Regions from separate parts of the Homo sapiens genome. Here region 1 is linked to region 2. The links come from fine-mapping of genetic effects on gene expression. A gene starts in region 2. The other region holds a variant in brackets. All regions are shown on one strand. Distances are from middle to middle.

The links. PIP is the estimated chance that this variant, and not a neighbour inherited with it, causes the effect.
Region 1: its variant is fine-mapped to the expression of GLYATL2 in whole blood (TOPMed, PIP above 0.99). The same link has a PIP of 0.9 or more in blood mononuclear cells.

The regions. Positions count from the first base shown.
Region 1 is chr11:58,807,315-58,812,706 of GRCh38, forward strand. No RefSeq gene overlaps it. Among named protein-coding and RNA genes, the nearest start is that of GLYATL2, 35 kb to the right of the region's middle. The variant C/G (reference allele first, on the strand shown) is at 3,115.
Region 2 is chr11:58,841,689-58,847,080 of GRCh38, forward strand. It overlaps GLYATL2 (glycine-N-acyltransferase like 2), which reads right to left and starts at 3,016. Exons shown (of 6, transcript NM_145016.4): 1 at 2,746-3,016.

The DNA.
Region 1 (5,392 bases), 34 kb before region 2:
TCAGCATTTGTTCAAATTTTTGTGGATTGTGAGTAGATTGCCATGTGCTATATGGCAATCCAATCACAATCTCTGTGTGTGTGCTTGTGTTTCTGTCTATCTCTCTCTCACACACACACACACACACATACACACACACACACACACACAGATTATAGGAACTGGCTCACAGTATTATGGAAACTGAGAAGTTTCATAATATGCTATTTGCAAGTTGGAGGAAAAGCCAGTGGTGTAACTCCGCCCAAGTCCGAAGGCCTGAGAACCAGAGAAGCCAATGGTGTAATTCTCTGTCTGACTCCAAAGGCCTGAGAACCAGGAGTTCCAATGCCCAAGGGCAGGAGAAGAGAAATGTTCCAGCTCAAGTAGAGAGAATTCACTCTGCCTCTGCCTCTTTGATCATTTCTGTCCTAAATGGATTGAATGATACCCACCTACATCAGTGAGGATGACTCTTCTTTATTCAGTCTACTGATTCCAAAGCTGATCTCTTCTGGAAACATGCTTATGGACACACCCAGAAATAATCTTTACCAGCTCTCTGGGCATACCTTAGCCCAGTCAAGTTGATGCATAAAGTTAACCATCACAGAAGGCTTGGTACCAGTTGATGACCCTGAGAAAATCAAGGATTTTCTGGAGTTTTTGAGATGTCCTGGTGAATATATCATAAATGGGGTATAGTGGTCCAAGTTGTCTATCATCTCCTGTATGGAATGGGCAAAGAGTAAGGAGATGTAATTGTTGCTTCTCTCTCACTCCTACATCTATACATCCAAGTCTGTTCTTGTCTTTTTCAGCCACACAGCTAAGATTTCAAGCAAAATCAACATAAAGAGATTATAGAGAATGAACTTTGTCTAAGAAGACAACACTTCTACTCCCAAGTCTCAGATCCTAAAACACTACCTGTTGCATTGTAGGTGTGCAACATATATTTGTTAAATAAATTTAAAATATTTACACTAATAATAACTGCCATTTACTAGGTGCATGTTAAGTACTTGGCAATGTACTGAGCAACTTATAGACCAAATTACATCCCAAGGAGTAAAATTCTCATTTCACATTTGAAAAACTTGAGAAACAGAAATGACAAAAGACTATCCAAAGCCCACACAGCTTGCAAGTGTACTTGAGCCCCCACTCACTCTGACTTAAATAACTTGTCTCAATACTCCTGTGTCCACCTAGGCTACAGGAGACATCTCCTTCTTCATCTCTGAAATGAAATTTTTTTCCACTTTTTTCACAATAATCATACCTTCAGAGCTCTCTCTCTCTCTCTCCTTGCTTTGTTTCTTCAACTCCCAAATATTCCTGTCTCAGGCAATATATTATTCCAATCTTACACCTCTACACAGAAATACCTGAGACTGGGTAATTTATAAGGAAAAGTGATTTAATTGGCTCACTATTCCACAGGCTGTACAGAAAGCATGATTCCGGCATTGACTTGGCTTCTGTTGAGGCCTCATGAAACTTAGAATCATGGTGAAAGTCAAAGGGAAAGCAAACCACTCACATGGCCAGAGCAGGAAGAAGGCAGAAAGGGGGAATGTGGCACACACTTTTAAACAACTGGATCTCATGAGGTCTCACTCACTATCATAAGAACAGCACCAATGGGGAAATCCACTCCCATGATCTGATCACCTCCCACCAGGCTCCACCTCCAACATTGGAGATTACATTTTGACATGAGATTTAGGCAGGGACACAGATCCAAACCATATCAGGCAACAACAGCAAAAGTCTTTCCTTAATTTTTTGCCCTTTTTATATCCTTTCAAAGCCAAAAAGACAAAGGTCTTGAGTGTTCTAACACACTCTCTCCCCAGTGCCCCACAATTTGGTTTCTGTACTTTTAATTTTGCTGAAATTTAGTTTTGGGGTATTAATCACCAAAACTTTTTCTTAAGTTCATTTTGATATTTTGCCAAATGATCTGTGAAACACTTGGCCAAATTTCCCTTAGTAGCCCATTAATTTATTCTATATTTAATAATTTTTCCCCTTCTCTTTGAAAAAAAGGAAATAAATTATCACTATCATATTCCATTCTCAAGTAAGTCAGATGGTATTATCTGTGAACCTTCTGTGAAGTAAATACACAGAGACACATAGCAGGTCTCCTAAAGTGTTTGTAGAAATTGATGGGTGAGTTTTAATTGCACCAATGCAAGATTGACTCTCAGTCATTCACAAGTAAGACCAAAGAAGAAATGGCAGATACCTTCAGCAGCCATTGGAAACATCTCAAATATCTCCCAGGCAGCAAACAGAGGTTGACAGCTTTAGGGTTCTAGGTTTGCAAGAAAATTGTTTTACAGTCCATATGAAGGGTCTAAGATACATCCATCCATCCTCAACCCTCCCTCTTCACCTACCTCACATCCAGGGACTCAGGAGTCTTGTCAAGGACTGGTGTGATTTTAGTAGAACCCTAGAGTCATGCAAAAGGTGCATTTTTTATGACAATTCGGTAGTTTTGTACCTTATTTTTAAAGAAATTGTATTGAGTTTATAATTATGTGTATCTATGGTATAAAATGCAATGTTATAATATAATATAGCATTATATATGTTATAATGGTCTTTTTGGCATTGAAAGGATATAAAATGTGGATGGATTTAATCAAGCTAGTTAACATATCAATCACCATACATACTTATTTTTGTGGTAAAAACATTTGAAATTTACTCCCTTAGCAATTCTGAAATATACAATAAATTATTAACAATAGTTGCTAGGATGTAAAATGGATGTCAATGACTTGTTTTTTTCTGCTGCACTGAAACTTTATCTTCTCTTACCAATATCTCCCCACTCTGCTGTCCCTACCTGCAGCCTCTGGTAGCCACCATTCTACCCCCTACATCTAATAACTTTAACATTTCACCTGCAAGTGAGGACCTGAAGCATTTGTCTTTCTGAGCCTGGCTTATTGTACTTAACTTCATGTCCTCCAGGTTAATCCACGTTGTCTCAAATGACAGCATTTCCTTCTTTTTAAGGCTATATGGTATTCCACGGTGTACTATATGTGTACAAAACATACCACATTTTCTTTATACATCATCCATTGATGGGTACTTAGTTTGATTCCACAT[C/G]TTTGCTATTTTGAATAATGCTGTAATGATCATGGGAGTACAGATAACTCTTTAACATACTAATTACATTTCCTTTGGGTATATAACCAGTAATGGTATTCTATATTAAATTATTACATCTGTTTATATCACCAGTCTCCCTTATGAGATCATCAGCTGTTGGACTGTTCTGTTCATCTTTGCATCCCCAAGATCAATCATAGTATCTGGCATTAGCCAGAATTTGGGACTTATTTATTGAATGAGAAGAAATATGGATGAGTAAATTACTTAACTGAGGAGACCCTATGCTTCTGTAACCTGAGATGGTCAAGATTCCAGCACCCATCATGGTAATAAAGAAAAATATCTTTGGCCCCTCAAATCATTAAGCAAAAGGGAAAAGTCAAGCTGGGAACTGCTTAGAGCAAACCTGCCTCCCATTCTATTCAAAGCCACCCCTCTGGTCACTGAGATAAATGCATATCTGATTGCCTCCTTTGGAGAGACTCATCAGAAACTCAAAAGAATGCAACCATTTGTCTCATATACCTGTGACTTGGAAGTTCTCTCCCAACTTTGAGTTGTCCCACCTTTCCAGACATAATCAATGTTTATTTTACATATGTTGATTAATGTCTCATGTCTCCCTAAAATGTATAAAATTAAGCTATGCTCTGACCACTTTGGGCACATGTTGTCAGGTCCTTCTGAAGCTGTGTTACACATGTGCATCCTTGGCAAAATAAAATTTCTAAATTAACTGAGACCTGTCTCAAATTTTCAGGGTTCACATTTTGGTAACTATGAAGGGATTCTGAGTGGAGGTGTCGCTGAACTTTGAGAAATCTCCTCTCAGTGCCAGATACCAGCATGAGCTAACTTTATGACTCAAACCAACAGAACAATTTGCTGAGGTCTGAGAGAACCCCCTTCAGAGAATCCTTAATCTCCTCAAATTTTGTTTAGATCTAAAGTTTATTTTGCCGTACAACTCCCTCTTTTATTGGAGTTTTACTTGATTCCAACAAGAAAGACAAGTTTTTCTACTTCCATGATGATGGAAGGTGGGTAACTCTTTTGTGGAGTTTGAGCTCACTTCTGACAAGGAAGATGAGGTTTTTTTTTTCTGCTTCTAGGATGGTAGACAGCTGTCTTCAGCCTGAGACTCATCCTTAGGTAAGTAGCTAAATTGAGGTTTTGTCTTGGCTAAAGTTAACAACAAGCTGGTCTTAATTTCTCCTTATCATTAGAGCGCTCAGTAGTCATATAAGTTGTGCAATCATTTGTTTGGCTTAACTTTTTGTTGTCGTTGTTGTTGTTTGTTTCTGCTCTTGTCGTTGTTCCAGTCTTTTTCCCATTAAGTTTGATTGACTCTATCTGACTTGATCAAATCTGAAGGAAATTCCAACTTATGGGGAATAAGTCCTCTGAAGTGGCTAAATTCCCCTAAAAAAAGAGGTGTGTGTGTGTGCATATGTGTATGTTTGTATTTAAAAGGCCTTCAAGTTTTTATTTTTGTTTTTCTTCTAGGAACTTGTCTTTTTTTCAGTACAAGTTTTTTTCTTCTCAGTTGACTGAATTCTGTTTTCTTCACTTACTTTGGCTGTCTCTCTTTTCTCTGGCACCCTCTGCTGCATGGGGGACCTCAAATAGTTTATAATATCCTGGGGTTTCTTAAAGAAAATGAAGAAGGTACCAGACTCCCTTTAGGGGAGAAACCTGTTTTTTTGTATGTAACCCCAAGAAAGTAAACAGAAAAGTTTGTCTCAGATGTTGAACTGCCTACTTTTGTATTGTGTTACCTTTATTTTGGACAAAAATAGTTATCGCAACAGAGGTTACTATTGGGTTTTTAAGGAAGAGTGTGATCTAGAAATTTAGAAATGTCTTTGTAAAAAAGAAATTTAAGTGCATCATAAAAGCATCACATGGTATAATCTCATAATAATTTTCCTTTTTTGGAGACCCAGGATTCAATATGGGCTCTGCCCAGAGCTCAGAGGTGCATTTAATAGATAGGTAGTCCCTACCTAAATAAAACTGGTCTCCTTATACAATCCTATGATAGATTTATATAATTTTATGTTTGATTTGGCATCCATCTTTAATCTCCCTTAAACACTACCAAACGTTTCCTCTGTGTACCCTATGATGTAAATTTTGCTATTTCATTTTCACCTGAGTTGTTTCCTTTAATATGCAATTTTAAGGCTATTTAGCTGAAAACTGCCTAGGGTTGTGAAACAGGTTAAGAATCTGAAAGTCTAAGATAGGAAAAAAAGGTTTTTCATAAATC
Region 2 (5,392 bases):
TGTCTAGGATGATGGGTGCACTAACCAAATGGCACAGCATTCTGCCCATTCTGCAGGCTTTGGTAGCATATTCCACAAAGGAGAGCAATCAACTTCAAGGAAAGAGCGACCAAAGCAGTCAAAGGCTGCTGAGAAGCTAAAAGATATGAGTACTAAAGATGGCAGTGCATTTTGGAGTTAGGAGTTGATTACTGACTTGGTAAGAGATGTGGAATGAAACGTGAGGAAGTGAAGGTAACTTTTTCAAAGAGCTTGACCAGGAAAGGAAGAAGAACATGAGAATATCGAAGGACAGAGGAGAGGTACAAGAGCTCAAAAAAGGCATTTCTCTTATTAGATGAGAGTTAAGCATACCTATACTAACTACAAGAGGTAAGATGTAAGTCATTAATAGGCCAATGTGTAAACAGGACATAGAAAGGTGACAGAAATTCATTGACCTTATATACAAAATGCCAACCCTATTTCAGCTTCTTTATGTTGATTAATTCATGTAATCGTCAATGATAATTCTCAGCATACTTGTGAAATTAAGTTTTGGACTGGAAGAATACTTCTTTCAGTGAAAAGTCAGAAAAAAAATTAGGATGGATGCAGATGCAGGTGTATGTATGTACGTATACAGCAGGTCATCAAATAATGTCATTTTGTTCAATATCTTTTCATTACAATGGTGAAGAGAAAAACATCAATTCCTGGCTGGACTACTGTCTATGTGCAGTTTGCCTGTTCTCCTCATGTCTGCATGGATTTTCTCTGTCTAAATTGTCCCAGGATGAGTGAGACTCTGTGTGTGTGTGTGTGTGTGTGTGTGTGTGTGTGTGTGTGTGTGCGCCCTGTGATGGAAAGGTGTCCAGTCTGGGGTGGGTTCCTGCCTTGTGCTCTGAGCTACCAGGACAGGCTTCAGTCACTTGCTCCCCTGAACTGGAAAAAGCCAGTTGAAAAATGAATGAATGAATGAATGAATGAATGAAACATTCATAATAAAACAAAAATTCATGAAGTCTATGATAATCATACAAATGAATGACAATAAACAATGCTGTGCCAAAGGACTCAGTGAGGCCACCATATTTGTGATTGAATTTTAACTTCATAGAGGCAAGAGGTGCTCCTTACAACTTTTGCTTTGCAAACATTTATTTCTCAATTTAACCCACCACTACTGTGACCACCATCACACAGACTCACCAAAAATTAGGTAAATAATTATCTTGTTTTTATTAATATTTATTAAATGTATACGCAGTTTCCATTTAGTTCATTGTTTTATATTAGAAGTGTTTGGGTTCTTTATTTATAAGTTTGGTGATGTTTTTGTGACCAGAAATATGCTGTAGGAACTTAACTCTTCTTTATACTAATTAGCTTATGGTAAAATTAATTTTGTTATATGTTGTTTCATTTGAAATTGCAGTTTCCAAGAACCTATTGACAATGTTAAGTGAGGACTAATTTTATATGGGAGTACACAGGGTTAGAAAAAAAGAGCAGAGAGTTGGCAAGTTATTTTTGAATGTCTGTTTCCTGGAAGAGGTAAAATTTTTTCCTATTTCCAAAATCACTTTTTAGCAGTAAGTGGGTGAGGGAGTATGCCAAGAAAGTGTCGAGAAAAAGAAGTAGGATTTTATGGGAAACAGTTAGGGTTTAAATGGCTTTTGATGTTAATGGGAGAAAGAGTGGACTAGAATTAGCAAGGACTAGCAAGCATGCTTAGGATAATGTAAAGATGGACACTATGATTTGGAAGTGTTACTCAACAATATATTGAGCTCAGCTCCCTGAGAGTAGAAGCAGAGAAGACAAATTAAAACAAACCAAGGTTGGTTTTTTCAGGGCTGGTGTAGCAAAAAAGATAAGGTACAAAGCATTTGAATATATAGAAATGAGAGATTGAAACTTACAAACTGTAGCATCCAGGAGAGAGAAGAGAAAAAGTAAAGTAGGTTGGAGACCAATAAAGTAAGAAAATATAGAAAAAGCCATGGAAGAAAGTACTTGATGAAGTCAAAGAATAGCAATGTTAATAGACAGGGAAAAATGTACTTAAAAATAGGAGATTGGGATCAGATATTAGACTATTAGAGGTTAAGATGTCAGAGGCACTCAGAGGTAGATCAGTTTGGGATGTAGGGCTGTTGGCTTCAACTCCAAGTCAACAGAGTAGGAGCCAAGAAGGGAATGGGAGTTTCAGGTACCACAGACATGAATAGGATGTAGCAGAAGTTTGTTGGAGAGAAACATTAGGATACCAGTTGCCAAATGTTTCAATGAATGGAGAGAAATTTGGCAGAGGGCAACAGAAAAGCATTGTTTTATTCTAGCCACATGACACAGAAGGAAGAAGGAAGATTTTTCTATGCAAATAAACCACTAATACTTTAGAAGCAGGATTGGAGGCAAGGAGAATATTGATTTTTTTTTTCTGCTAACAGTATTACTATGGAGATCTAGAGGGTGTCAGAGAAAGGTACAAGCATATTGATAACTTATAATTCAAGGAAAGCATTTGGACATTTTACAAATTCAAAAGGATACGCACTGGCTTTTTCTGAAGTATTTCCAGTTTCAGGTACCTAAAAGGTTTTGAAGAATTCATTCTCAACATTGAGACCCTGGGGAGTGCTCTTTCCAAGGGTTTGCAGGGGAAAAGAAATAAATTAACAAATACAAATGATTTAGAACAAGAATCCAAATTAATTGAACTGCCAAGATAAAAAGGCTGTTCTAAATAATTCTGCTTACCTGAAGTTTCTTTGTAGACCTGTAGGCACACTGCCTGCTGCAGTTTCTCAGTATGGCAATGGAAAGGTTTCTGTAGCTAATACTCTACGGACTGAAACACAATAAAATTCAACTGACTCACGTTGTCACTGTTAAGCATAAAGCTTCAGGAAGTTATGGGTTCCTGTAGATTAAACCAGACGTTCTGTCCATAGACAAGAAATCACAGGCTTTGTAGACCAGAGGAGGACTGAGAATATGTTCCATATTGAGCAGCTTCTACAATTCTAAGAAGTTTTACTCAAGAAGCTTTTGATTTATATATAACCTCTTGTAGCTGAAAGGCTATTCTAGAACAATATTAAGTCAATTTTCCATTGTTGGCAAAAATAGCACAGCTGCAGCCTTATTTAAATGATGTCAGTAGAGCAAACAAAGAGTTGGAAAGTTTGATTTCAATGCAAAATACTTGGCTTAATACTTTCAACCATTTGTGGCTTGGAAAAAGCCAAAAATGCCTCAAGGAAGTTACTGTAATAATGAGAACTCAGTTTCATATACCTTGTCCTCTGGTTGTCTAAAGTGGAGCAACAGGGAGGGGCATTGTAAGTTTAAGAAGAAAAATCAATTACTGGAGAAAAGTTTCAGGGGGACTGGAATTAGCTTTGTAGTGGAATAGAGACAAACATTGTTTTTCAAAGTGTGTTCCTCACACCACCTCCTTCAAGATCAATTAGGCTTGTTTGTTAACAATACAAGAACTTTTCCAGATCAGGTAAATCAGAGGCTCCCAGAGTGCCTGGCAATCTGTATGTTATAAAAAGCTATCTAAAAGAATCTGATCAACATTACATTTTGAAGACATTGAGATTAAAACATGGGAAAATATAAGTTATAAAATTTTTATACTGGGTGCAGTGGCTCACATCGGTAATACCAACTACTTGGGAAGCTCAGGCAGGAGGGTCGCTTGAGGGCAAAAACTTGATACAAGCCAGGGCGACCTAATAAAACCCCAGTCTTTAAAATTTTGGTTTTTAATTAGCCAGATGTAGTGGCATGTGTCTATAGTCCCAACTACTCAGCAGACTGAGATGGAAAGATTACGTGAGCCCAGAAACTTGAGATCGCAGTAAGCTATTTCACCACTGCACTTCAGCCTGGGGAACAGGGTGAGATACTATCTCTAATTAAAAAAAAATTCACCCACTTTCTGGAAGTGAAAGAAACTTCACAAATTGTAATCATTTATAGCATGAGAAAAGCAAGAGTTATTTTTACACAAATAAGGAAGCTGTTGCTGAGAAAAAAATAAATGTCTTCCCCCAGGTCACAAAACTAACCAGTGGCAATGTCTGGAACATGAGGCCAAATATCGAATTATTTTAATGACACTATGATTCCATAGAGAGTGATTCTCTACCCTTAGGCAGTTTATATCTTCTTACAAACCTAAATCATCTACTCCAGATGACATATAAAAATTATCAGTGATAATTTAATACTATCTACACATTCTTGCTATGTAAGGCATTGAGTTTTATAGTTTTAGTTACTCTACTTTTTGAACCAAAAGTGGTTCACATAATCTATCAAAGAATTTTACATATTCATAATTGTAAACGATTATTTTGTTAAATACATATCAAAGTTTATAGAGTTATACAGTAAACTAATCATCCTTTTTAAAAAATGGTCCATTTCAACTAGTCAATACATATGTTTTATTCCATAATTGACAGCAAACTGTGGATAGTTGAGAGAACACATATTTTTTTTCTATACTGAGTATTACTTAAGTAATTTCTTGAGCCATTAAATTTTTTTTATATAGTTTATAATGGGGAGGAGAAGCAAAGCAAGTGGCAGAATAGAAGGCTCCACTAATCATTTCCCCATACCCCACAAGGCACCAACTTAACAACTACACAGAAAAAAATACCTTCATGAGAGCCAAAAATCAAGTGAGCACTCATAGTACCTGGTTTTGACTTCATATCCCTGAAAGAGGCACTGAAGAGACAGTAAAAAACAGTCTTGAATCACCAATCCCCATCCCTCCCAACCTCAGTAGCAGTAGTGTGGTGCACAGTATATCTCTGGGCACGGGGGTAGAAAGAACACAGCAATTATGAGGCATTGAACTCATTGCTGTCATGTTAGACACAAAGGAAAACTAGACCAAACTCAGCTGACACCTGCCCATGGAGGCAGAGGGAGCATTTAAACCAGTCCTAACCCGAGGGGAATCACCAATCCCAGCAGTCAAAACTTCAGTGACTGAAAACCTCACCACAGAGGGCCTAAAGTTCTCTGTGTTTCCAAGTAAACGTGAAAGGCAGTGTAAACCATAAGGACTGCAACTCTTAAGTGAGTCCTAGTGCTGAATTAGGCTCAGAAATTGTGGACTGGGGGGACACTTGACATACTGAGACACCAGCTGGGTCAGTCAAAGGAGAGCTGGTATCACCTCTTCCCTAACCCCAGGCTGCATAGCTCACAGCTGCTAAAGAGACTCCTTCCCTCTGCTTGAGGAATGAAAAAGAAACAGTAAGGCGAACTTCATCTTGCATCTTGGATATCAGCTCAGCCACAACAGGATAAGGCACCAAATAGAGTTGTGAGGCCCCCGTTCCAGGCCCCAGCTCCCAGACAACATTTCTAGACA